Homo sapiens: one gene and its partners. The protein of the gene in region 2 interacts with the protein of the main gene of each other region in a biochemical or structural test. Each region holds a gene or a part of one and is shown on either strand. Other genes may lie near its edges. The genes, in order: RAF1, RHEB and RPS6KB1.

Region 1 (3,750 bases), on a different chromosome or scaffold from region 2:
TGGGCTGAAGTGACCCCCCTTCCTTGGCCTCTCAAAGTGCTGGGATTAGAGGCTTTGGCCACCACATCCAACCTGAATTTTATTATTTATATTTTCTTTTAATCTCCCATTACTAGATGGCAGGGATTTTGATTACTGTTAATTTTCCAATATCCAAAATAATGTGTGGTACCTAATAGGCTCTCAATATCGAAAAGTAATAGTGCACATGGCATTCTGTAGTATTAGGTAGGTATCTTGTGTTCCTGTGTTTGCGTAAATAAGATCATACATTATGTTCTGCTTTTTTAACTTAATGGCTTTTTTTTTCCTTTTTTTGCGACAGAGTCTGGCTCTGTCACCTAGGCTGGAGTGCAGTGGCGCTATCTCGGCTCACTGCAACCTCTGCCTACTGGGTTCAAGTGATTCTCCTGCCTCAGCCTCCTGAGTAGCTGGGATTACAGACGCGCACCACCACACCTGGCCAATTTTTTTTTTTTTTTTTTTAGGCGGAGTCTCACTCTGTTGTCCAGGCTGGAGTGCAGTGGCGCGATCTCAGCTCACTGCAAGCTCCGCCTCCCGGGTTCATGCCATTCTCCTGCCTCAGCCTCCTGAGTAGCTGGGACTACAGGGGCCCGCCACCACACCCGGCTAATCTTTTGTATTTTTAGTAGAGACGGGGTTTTACTGTGTTAGCCAGGATGGTCTCGATCTCCTGACTTCGTGATCTGCCCGCCTCGGCCTCCCAAAGTGCTGGGATTACATGTGTGAGCCACCGCACCCGGCCTATTTGTTTTGTATTTTTTAGCAGAGACAGGTTTCACCATGTTGGCCAGGCTGGTCTCAAACTCATGACCTCAAGTGATCTGCCCGCCTCGGCCTCCCAAAGTGCTGGGATTACAGGCGTGAGCCACCACGCCCAGCCATGTCTTTTTTTTTTTTTTTTTTGAGACAAGAGTTTCGCTCTTGTTGCCCAGGCTGGAGTGCAATGACGCGATTTCGGCTCACCGCAATCTCCGCCTCCTGGGTACAAGCAATTCTCCTGCCTTAGCCTCCCGAGTAGATGGGATGACAGGCATGCACCACCATGCCCAGCTAATTTGGTATTTTTATTTTTTTATATTTATTTATTTTTTCGAGACGGAGTCTCGCTCTGTCGCCCAGGCTGGAGTGTAATGGTGCGATCTGGGCTCACTGCAACCTCTGCCTCCCGGGTTCAAGCGATTCTCCTGTCTCAGCCTCCTGAGTAGCTGGGATTACAGGCGCCCGCCACCACGCCCGGCTAATTTTTGTATTTTTAGTAGAGACGGGGTTTCTCCATGTTGGTCAGGCTGGTCTCGAACTCCCGACCTCAGGTGATCCGCCTGCCTCGGCCTTCCAAAGTGCTGGGATTACAGGAGTAATCCCAAAAAAAGCGCCGGGCCCTTTTTTTGTTGTTTTTTAAATTCAGTAACTATCTAGTTCATTCTTGGATGGATGACAACCCAGATTGGATGTGTAGCAGCGTTCTCTTAACCAGTTTCCTATTAATCTTCATTTCATCCCCAGTGTTTCTCCAGAATGCAAATAATATGGCATTAAATATCTTCACACATAGCTTTTTGTGTATGTGTATACTTATTTCTCTAGAATTAGTGTCTAGAAGTGAAACTGCCGGGAGGAAGGATATATACTTTTAACATGTCCAAGTTCCACTGTGATAGCGCTGCGAGGGCACACAACAGGTTTCAATATACCTTGGACCAAACCGGATATTATCAGTTTTTTTAACTTGTTGCTAATGTGATGGGGGAAAAATGAACTCGGAATTTACACACAAGGAAAAGACCGTTTAAGGTTCAGGGACTGTCCACATAGCTGTCAAGTGGCGGAGCCGTGATTTGGTATTAAAGTGCCCGGAGAGGACGCGTCAAAGTTGGACACTGTGCCCTGTGTCCTGAGGCACGTCTGGTGATCGCTGGGCCTTGCAATGCTGGGCAGGCAGGCCTTCCTCTCCCCTTCTAGGCCTCTGGCCACTCCTGGCTGGCCGAAAGCCGGTTCTTCTCGATTACCGAGTGCCTCTCCTGAAAGCAAGTCAGCGTCGCCTAACCTCTTCAGCTTCGAAATGGCGGCCACCAGATCGCTAGGCCACGCCCCGGGGGCGGGGCCTGAGTTCAGGCCAGAGCGATGGATGCCCGAGCCAAGTTAGAAGTCGACTGCCAGTAGGGCTCGCGCAGAATCGGAGAGCCGGTGGCGTCGCAGGTCGGGAGGACGAGCACCGAGTCGAGGGCTCGCTCGTCTGGGCCGCCCGAGAGTCTTAATCGCGGGCGCTTGGGCCGCCATCTTAGATGGCGGGAGTAAGAGGAAAACGATTGTGAGGCGGGAACGGCTTTCTGCTGCCTTTTTTGGGCCCCGAAAAGGGTCAGCTGGCCGGGCTTTGGGGCGCGTGCCCTGAGGCGCGGAGCGCGTTTGCTACGATGCGGGGGCTGCTCGGGGCTCCGTCCCCTGGGCTGGGGACGCGCCGAATGTGACCGCCTCCCGCTCCCTCACCCGCCGCGGGGAGGAGGAGCGGGCGAGAAGCTGCCGCCGAACGACAGGACGTTGGGGCGGCCTGGCTCCCTCAGGTAGGTGGCAGGACCGGGTCGTGGATGCCGGGGGAGCCGGGCGGCGGGGCTGAGGGATCGGCTTCCAGGGCGACCGGGCCTGGGTGGCGCTGATGGAGCGGCCCCGCGGCTGCCGGGCAGAGGGCTTGGGCCAGGCCGTTGTCACCCTGGGGTAGCGTTGGGCGGGGGCCCCGGAGTCCGGTGTCATGGCCGGCGAGCCGAGTTCCCACATCCCACTCAAATTTCCTTGTGTTTGGCGGAAACGTGCCAACGCCACCCTTATGCCATGCGCATTCCTCATATTTGGCAGTGGGAAAATCCGCCCAGAGCTGCCCCATATCTGTTGTCACTTGGATGGGCCAATTCCTTTTCTCTTGGGCCGCCGAATGTGGGACCCGGGCTTGCACCCTTTCTCAGGGTACTTCAGTCAAGTGACACCCTTTTAGAGACGACGTGAGGAATCGGGTAAGAGAGGAGGAAACTGGCCAGTGCCCTACCACAAAGGCACAGGGGCCTCTTCTTGGGTATCAGGACTAGCCTTGGGTATCAGGACTCTGGGTTATTAATGAAAGGTTTGGGATACTTATAGAGGATTGGCCTCAGGACGCTTTGGAATGAAGAGCCAGGGCTGTCTTTTGTGTGACGCGAGAGCCGCCGGGACGCTTCAGCTCTGCAGCTGCTGAGGCTCTGCGAGCGAGTCGATGCCCAAGAGAGAGGGGTTTGGACGTCGTGAGAGGCGAGGCGGCCGTGTTCATTCATTGTTCTCGTTCTAGGGCTCTGGGTGTGCCCCTGGTATTCATTCTGTGGTGGGAAGAAGGAATGGAACTTAGTGTATCCTTGAGATGTGAACGGGTTCTAGGGGGTCACTTAATCTAAGTGGAAAATGAATTCAAGGCACGTTCATTGAGCGTTTCTGCTTGCCTGGTCCTCTGTGGGCTGAGTGGAGAGACTCTGCCCTCCCTGCGCTCCTAAGGCGTGAAAACAATGCAGTGTGATAAGAATTGGCTTATCAAGTGTTATGGGGATTTAGAACAGTTAGTTTTGCTTGGGGAGGAGTTGAGGAAGCTTCTACACTCGAGGAGACTTCTGAGTCGAGTTTTGAAACACCTGTGAGTAAGTGCTCATCGGGTGAGGAGGAGCTCAGGGAACAGCTGGTACAAAGGCTTAGAGCCATGTGGGAGTTGGGATG
Region 2 (3,750 bases):
TGAATACACAAATATTTATGAATATACAAGAAATATGTCAGTAAAACTTTCTGAATCAACCAGTTTGTTGATCAGAATTGTCTAATCCTTTTTATTGAATTTAACCTCTATCTAAATAATAACCATTTTCATTGTTTGTGAAATAAAACAGAAGTCTCACATTATTCCTTTATATCATAAAACCCCTGTAGAATTGCTCTTTCTGAGTAAATAAAGCGAAAATACATCCTATTTCATAATTTCTAGAAATGGAAAAAAGAAACCTGCAGTTGAGAGATGTGAGATTTGGGTTTTCATTTATCCCCACTAACAACTTTGGACAAGTTACTTCACCGTACCTTTGTCGCCTGTAAATTGGGTATATTGATATAGGAGTAGATCTCTCCTATCTGAGGCAGCCGGGTTACTTACTTTAAAACATTAGTTAAGGGCCAGGCGCAGTGGCCCACACCTGTAATCCCAATACTTTGGGAGGCCGAAGTGGGCAGATCATTTGAGGTCAGGAGTTCGAGACCAGCCTGGCCAACATGGTGAAACCTCATCTCTACTAAAAATACAAAAATTACCCGGGTGTGGTGGCGGGTGCCTGTAATCCCAGCTGCTCGGGAGGCTGAGGCAGGAGAATCTCTTGAACCTGGGAGGCGGAGACTGTATCATGAGCTGAAATCATGCCATTGCACTTCAGCCTGAGCGACAAAGCAAGGCTGTGTCTCAAAAAAAAAACAAAAAAACAACACTGGTTAAAGGGAAAAAAAATCGGAAAGGTGATGTCAATCTCCAGTGTTTTGTTTTAAAGCATAAATATACATTCAGTCACTCATCTTGTGAAATTTTCAAATTGTCATCTTTGAATATGAGTTCACCCACTGCTGTTCAGTATGACTACATCCACGATTTGTCCATTATGACTTCTGGTTCGGTTTCTTCCGAGTGAGATGCTTGGGAAACAGTCTACACCTCAACTATTTAGATTGCTGTGATTTTCCCCACCAGTCTTTTTCAGTTGGTTTGGCACACCTTATTAAGGAGCACCGTTTTTAGTAGATCAACTCACAGTATTCAACTTCTAGTTTTCAGACAAACAAAACTCTGTCTACACATACTTCAAAAGTTTGCAACATAAATTATGACTATGATGAATTTAACTGGCATAAGTGGGTTTGGGAACAAATGGGGCTGTTTTAAATAATGCCTTTTTTTTCTAGTAGCTCGTAGTTTAATCAGCATTCTCAAATTTGAGACATGAGGGAGTATGAGAAGAGTGGTGTTTTGTTTTTTAGAAATCTGTATGCTGAATACACAAATATTTATGAATATCCAAGAAATACGTCAGTAAAACTTTCCGAATCAACCAGTTTGATTCAGAAAATCAGTGATCTCAAGAAATTTAGCCACTTAGAACAGTACACATTTATGATCTCACAGTTTTTGTGGGTCAGGAATCTGGGTGTGGCCTAGCTGTGTCCTCTGCTTCAGTCTCTCAGAGCCACAGTGTGGGTATCAGCAGGGGCTGCAGTCCCATCTGAAGGCTTGCCTGGGGGAAGATGTTTCCCAGCGTGTTCACGTGGCTCTTGACAGGGTTGAGTTTCTTGCAAGTTGTTGGACTGAGCTTCTTAGTTCCTTGCTGGCCGCTGGCCTGAGGCTGCCCTCTGCTCCTTGCCAGGTGCTTCACTTCATTGGGGCAGGTGCACAAGAGAGCCAGGGAATTTCCTGCATGACAAGCCACTGTCTTTTATAACCTAACCGCAAAAGGGACATTCCATCACCTTTGCCATATTCTGTTCATTAGACGCACGTCACTAGGTCCATGCAGGGAGATGACACACAGTGTGGCCACTAGGAGAGCAGGAGATCTGGGAGCCGGCTCCAAGCTGCCTGCCACACAGTCCTAGTTCTTTCAGCTGTTTCTCACGTGACAGGGTACTGTATTTTTGCCCAAGTGGCGACACTTTTAAAGATAGGCAAATACAGCATGCGGAGGAAACCGTGGTTCTGTAATGCAACCGCAGGTCCTTAGGACACCCATATCCCATTTGTTGACCCACAGCGAGCTTGTAGGGGGGTTAAATTTCATTTTTGTTTTTATCAAATGACAGCACACATCGTTTAAAATAGCACAGTGTGTAATTCATTCAACAAGCTAACTTATTCTGAAGCTTGTGATGCAATCATGAACAAAGCAGACAAATCCCTGCCCTTGCGGACCTATTATTTCTGGTGTGGGAGACAAACAGTAAAACGACACACATGCGAGATAGGATGTCTGTGACCATGCTGCCAAGAAAAATAAAGTACGGAAGGGGTAAGAAATGGAAAGGAAATTTGTCATTTAGGGTAAACAGAAGAGGTGTAAGAAGTGACATTTGAGGCTGGGTGTGGTGGCTCACGCCTGTAATCCCAGCACTTTGGGAGGCCGAGGCAGGCGGATCACGAGGTCAGAAGTTTGCGGCTTGAGAGTCACTGGGGCCGAGTAAAGATGGCCACCCATCAGAGGATGTTGAACCAGGCACCGTCCATCTGCTGCAGCAGAGTCCTCTGGTTGCTGTGCTGAGCAGGGGTGGCGGGGAAGGGTTGGGGCTGTGGAACTGATGCAGGCAGACTTGGGCCAGGAATTCACACCTCAGCGGCAGCAGTGGAGGGGAGTGAGAAGCCGTCAGATTCTAGGTAGGATTTGAAAGTAGAGCCAGTGATGTGCTGGCAGATGTTTGCATGGGTTTTTTGGGGGAGGGTGGAAAATGATTTGTGGCCATTTGCCAGCAGTCAGTGGTATAAATAATCCTGCTGTGGCAGATTTCAAGTGATCATTATGACATCTCAGATCCCCTTCCCGGTGAGAGCCACCTCCATCCTAGAGTCATCGGCTCATTGATCTGATTGAAAGCCAAGAGATACTGGCATCACCCAGAGAATGTATGTACCTAGGAAAGAACACAGGAGCAGGCTGAATGTACTAGGGCACTCTAGGAAAAGCTGTTCAAGTTGTAATGTAAACAGTTGGTTCTTTGCTGAATGAGTTGGGTGATTAAAATTTGCATTTATGTGGTTTCTCAGCCCAGTGGTAGGCTTTCCGTTTGAATGCCTTACCTGTTTCACTTTGAATATCCTCAGTCAGGGTTGCTGAGTGTCAGATGTATGCACATGTGAATGGATTGCTAGGAAAAAACAGGAGTTCTTTGTGTTCATTTTATGTTATGTTAAAATGGTGAGTCTGTGACATTTTACATTTTTCCAGCTGGCAACATAACATACATTTAAAAACTTCAACATTAAAATGGATGTCTAATTTATACTTTTTGTTTTATAGTTTTGAAGTGATTAAAGTTATCCATGGCAAATTGTTGGATATGGTGGGGAAAGTACAGTAAGTAGTACCATTTTATCTGCTTGTTAGAGAAACTTCTTTTAATAGTATCTTCTGAGCAATACAATCTGGCACTTACTGGTTTGTCTTTTTTTTCTTACAAATAGAATACCTATTATGTTGGTTGGGAATAAGAAAGACCTGCATATGGAAAGGTATGTAGCTTTTATAAAGTCAAATCTAAGATGATTTAGTCACTGAAGTATCATTTTAATTATTGTTCTGATGTCAAGAATATTTTTAGCTGTAGCATTTTTATCCGTTCAGAGGTGTTATGGTCGTGTGCAGCAGAAGCAAAAGTGGAATAGAAATCTCACATTCCTCTAGAAAAGAGAGAGCAAACTTTATAGGAAACTACCTTTAGGTTATCTGCCACTTTGCATAAAGCA
Region 3 (3,750 bases), on a different chromosome or scaffold from region 2:
CTTGTGCTTTTCGAATCCAGACAGGGTTGATTCAGCCCTTTATTCTTTTGAGGTAGATAAATTTGGGTGTCACACAGTTTATAGTTGTGGGCTGGCTGGCAGGTGGGAGGGCAGATACTGTGGGCCTCAGCTGTCTATAAATATGTAGCTGTATTAAGTAAGGGATGAGTGGGCTTCTAAGGGTCAGGTTATAAGATACCTTTTGAAATCAAGATGTGATCTCTGAGAATAACAAAGTTCCTATTTCCTATGGGATTTTAAAGTTGGGTGTGGATGGGAGAAATTTGCTTGAAATGAATGGCTATTAGCTTAATTCCTACACAGACAGAACAAAACATGACCAATGGCAGTTTAGCATATTCTGGACATCTTTGCAATTTTAGCAATATATTCTAATGGCAAAATAAAGCACTTTATAGTTTCACTAAAATGAGTGAAACATAAATGTCCCCATGCCTTTTGGCAGCATCCTATGCCATCTCTTTTTCCAATACATCCCCCTACCCCACTAATTTGGTCTTTGGTGCATGTCTGTTTCTTTCAAGGAATTTTGCTCCATACGTAAACTGCTTTGGATAGATTACACTCTTTTTAATTTTATTAAATCACTTTTGTTTCCAGCTTTTACTTGGCAGAAATCTCCATGGCTTTGGGGCATTTACATCAAAAGGGGATCATCTACAGAGACCTGAAGCCGGAGAATATCATGCTTAATCACCAAGGTGGAGACATACCGTAAACAATTCTATAGTAAATAATCATCTTAAAATCCTCCCACATAGGTCGTGGCCATTTTCAAAGCCCCAAATTCATCTCTCTATTTTGTATATTTCCTCCCTCAGAATTCATGGCATCATAGTACTTGCTGATATTTTAAGTCTTTAGGTAATTACGCTTGGTGAGAGTAAAAGAAGTTGAGGATAATAGTCGCTCAACTGCCTTTTTTAGTTTAATCCTTACTCTTTATAGTTTTTCATGTTTTTGGAATCTTTACATCAAATGTTGTATAATGTTTTAGACTGTAAAAGCCAGTCTAAACATTAATTTTGGCTTGTTACTTAAATTGAAAAGTGAATCTCAATTATATAAGTTGAGTTTTAATAATGAAAATATGTAAATATTGGCTGGGCACAGTGGCTGACACCTGTAATCCCAGCACTTTGGGAGGCTAAGGTGGGTGGATCACCTGAGGTCAGGAGTTCAAGACGCCTGGCCAACATGGTGAAACCCCATCTCTACAAAAATACAAAAAAAAAAAAAAATTAGCTGGGCATGATGGTGGGTGCCTGTAATCCCAGCTACTCAGGAGGCTGAGGTGGGAGAATCGCCTGAACCCAGGAGGCGAAAGTTGCAGTGAGCCAAGATCGCGACATTATACTCCAGCCTGAGTGAAAAGAGCGAGACTCCGTCTCAAAAAAAAAGAAAATATGTGAATATTAGAAGCTATGCTTCTTACAGTAGGTTTTATTAATGCTGGGAAAAGGATTGAAATTGAACCAAAGTATTTGATAAAACTTTGGAAATATGATGTTTAGTAGGCATCAGGTTACTTTTTTTTTTTTTTTTTTGAGATGGGGGTCTCACTCTGTCATCCAGGCTAGAGTATGGTGGCATGATTACAGCTCACTGCAACCTCCGCCTCCCAGGCTCAAGTGATCCTTCCACCCCGGCCCCTCAAGTAGCTGGGGCCACTGTGGCACACCACCACGCCTGACTAATTTTTGGTATTTTTTGTAGAAATGGGGTTTCATCATGTTGCCCAGGGTGGTCTCAAACTCCTGAGCTCAATTGATCTGCCTGCCTTGGCCTCCCAAATTGCTGGGATTACAGGCATAACCCACCTTCCCCCCAGCCAGAATCAGTTTATTCTTGCTGTTTGTTTGTAACAACAAACATAAACATCAGAGAGACTGATAATCTATACAACTATAGATATAGCACAGTGAGCCTTGACTACAACTGCATGCTGCTAAAGACAGCTCAATTTATGCTAATCTGGGCTGTAGGTAGACTTGGCAATTCACTCGTACCCCAAAGGAGCAACCAGCTGACCCAGGGTATCTAGAAGGTGGTAGCAGCTGCTAATCCTTAGATGTCTACAGAATAATCCATGAGGTAGTTAATTGTTTCAAACTCTTAGAAAATGATGTATGAACAACTGAGGCTCATATAAACATTCCAGATTATACTCCTCCACCCACCTTTTTTTTTTTTTTAAGGAGAAATGATATACTTAACTGAATATATCATGGGAATCAGTGTCTCTTCCTTCCTCTCATCAACACCTCCTCACTCCCCAAAACGTGGATTCTGATCTGAATTATAAGTCACAGGATAGAATAGGGGAGCGATAGAATAGTTAACTTCTTTGATTTATAAGGTTGAGTGTATCAGATGGTTCTGTGAAAATAAAGGCCATACTTCTTCTGTATCAGAGTGTAGTATATATTTACATTTGAATCAATAGGTCATTGTGCCTTTTCTGTGAAATGAACCTCAAATACTAGAGTCCCTGAGATTGTTGAACCACTTGTTATGACAGTCCAGTAAAGAAAGCTAAACTTGAACTGAAATGATCTTTGTGTAAGGTGGTAAGTTTTTTACTTTCTGGATCAGTGATGATTGATTCATACTATCTAGCAATTTTCTTTCTTTCCCCTAATTGGTAGCATTGGGCAGAATGAGCTACCTTGTTATAATGAGTTTCTGAGACCATTTTAAGGACTCTTCACAGTTCACTGTGATAAAAGCTATATATTTGAAGTACTGTCTCACACCTTTGTTCAAAAGGTACAGAGTATGTTTATTGGGGTCTGTGTACGTAAACTAGACTTCATAAAACAGTTTTCCCAGGATTTTTCTTTTTCAGGATGGTAGAGAATTTTGTATATACTTAAAGCTAGAGCCTTAAACAGGTTATTTCACTTTTTTCTCTATCTTTATTTTCTCTTTACTAGATAGATTGTATCATTGGCAAAAGGTGACTTTGCCCTAGCCTTAAACAGTTAGCATCCCATTTTATGGATGGTACCTTGTTCTTGACATCTGCAAGAAAATTTGAGGCAAGAAAAGTTAAATGGAAGGATAGATTAAAGTATTATGTGACATGTTCAAACACTGCACATACTTATAATTCGGAGAATAATCATGCTGTAATCTTTCATTGTAGGTCATGTGAAACTAACAGACTTTGGACTATGCAAAGAATCTATTCATGATGGAACAGTCACACACACATTTTGTGGAACAATAGAATACATGTGAGCTACATGTTAAACATAATTGGTTTGGGGGTAATAGCTAATTTTACCTGTTTTAAGGAATAGTATCTGTTTTCTGTACCCTCATTGACTCTGTATATTGTTTTTAAAATTCTAATTCAGATGATATGCAAATGGGTGAATTTTTAAGCATATTATTTTCCTCATTGTAGGGCCCCTGAAATCTTGATGAGAAGTGGCCACAATCGTGCTGTGGATTGGTGGAGTTTGGGAGCATTAATGTATGACATGCTGACTGGAGCAGTAGGTGCACAGTTAAAAGCTGCATGTATTATTGGTCTGTGCTGAGTCACTATAGCAAGAGACCTGTCCTGTGCTTTCTGAACATGTTACCAGTGGAGTTTTCAAAGCCCAAAGATTTGTTATTAGCAGTTTAACACTAATAATGCTGTATGATTATATGGGATCCCATACTTTCCGAAACATTTTCTTTTAAATGATCTATGTCATGGCAGGCCTGTGAAATAGA

The links.
Region 1: the proteins of RHEB (region 2) and RAF1 form a complex in vitro, tested with the Homo sapiens proteins (3 studies listed by BioGRID and IntAct).
Region 3: of the proteins of RHEB (region 2) and RPS6KB1, one has a biochemical effect on the other in vitro, tested with the Homo sapiens proteins (one study listed by BioGRID).

What each region holds. Positions count from the first base shown.
Region 1 is NC_000003.12:12,662,645-12,666,394, reverse strand, and holds the start of RAF1 (RAF proto-oncogene serine/threonine-protein kinase), read left to right. Parts: upstream 1-2,277; 5' UTR 2,278-2,582; intron 2,583-2,886; exon of another isoform or gene 2,887-3,026; intron 3,027-3,598; exon of another isoform or gene 3,599-3,670; intron 3,671-3,750. UniProt on the Homo sapiens protein: Serine/threonine-protein kinase that acts as a regulatory link between the membrane-associated Ras GTPases and the MAPK/ERK cascade, and this critical regulatory link functions as a switch determining cell fate decisions including proliferation, differentiation, apoptosis, survival and oncogenic transformation.
Region 2 is NC_000007.14:151,471,160-151,474,909, reverse strand, and holds part of RHEB (GTP-binding protein Rheb), read left to right. Parts: intron 1-3,304; coding exon 3,305-3,361; intron 3,362-3,468; coding exon 3,469-3,516; intron 3,517-3,750. UniProt on the Homo sapiens protein: Small GTPase that acts as an allosteric activator of the canonical mTORC1 complex, an evolutionarily conserved central nutrient sensor that stimulates anabolic reactions and macromolecule biosynthesis to promote cellular biomass generation and growth.
Region 3 is NC_000017.11:59,931,001-59,934,750, forward strand, and holds part of RPS6KB1 (ribosomal protein S6 kinase beta-1), read left to right. Parts: exon of another isoform or gene 1-52; intron 53-621; coding exon 622-722; intron 723-3,169; coding exon 3,170-3,260; intron 3,261-3,433; coding exon 3,434-3,524; exon of another isoform or gene 3,525-3,528; intron 3,529-3,750. UniProt on the Homo sapiens protein: Serine/threonine-protein kinase that acts downstream of mTOR signaling in response to growth factors and nutrients to promote cell proliferation, cell growth and cell cycle progression.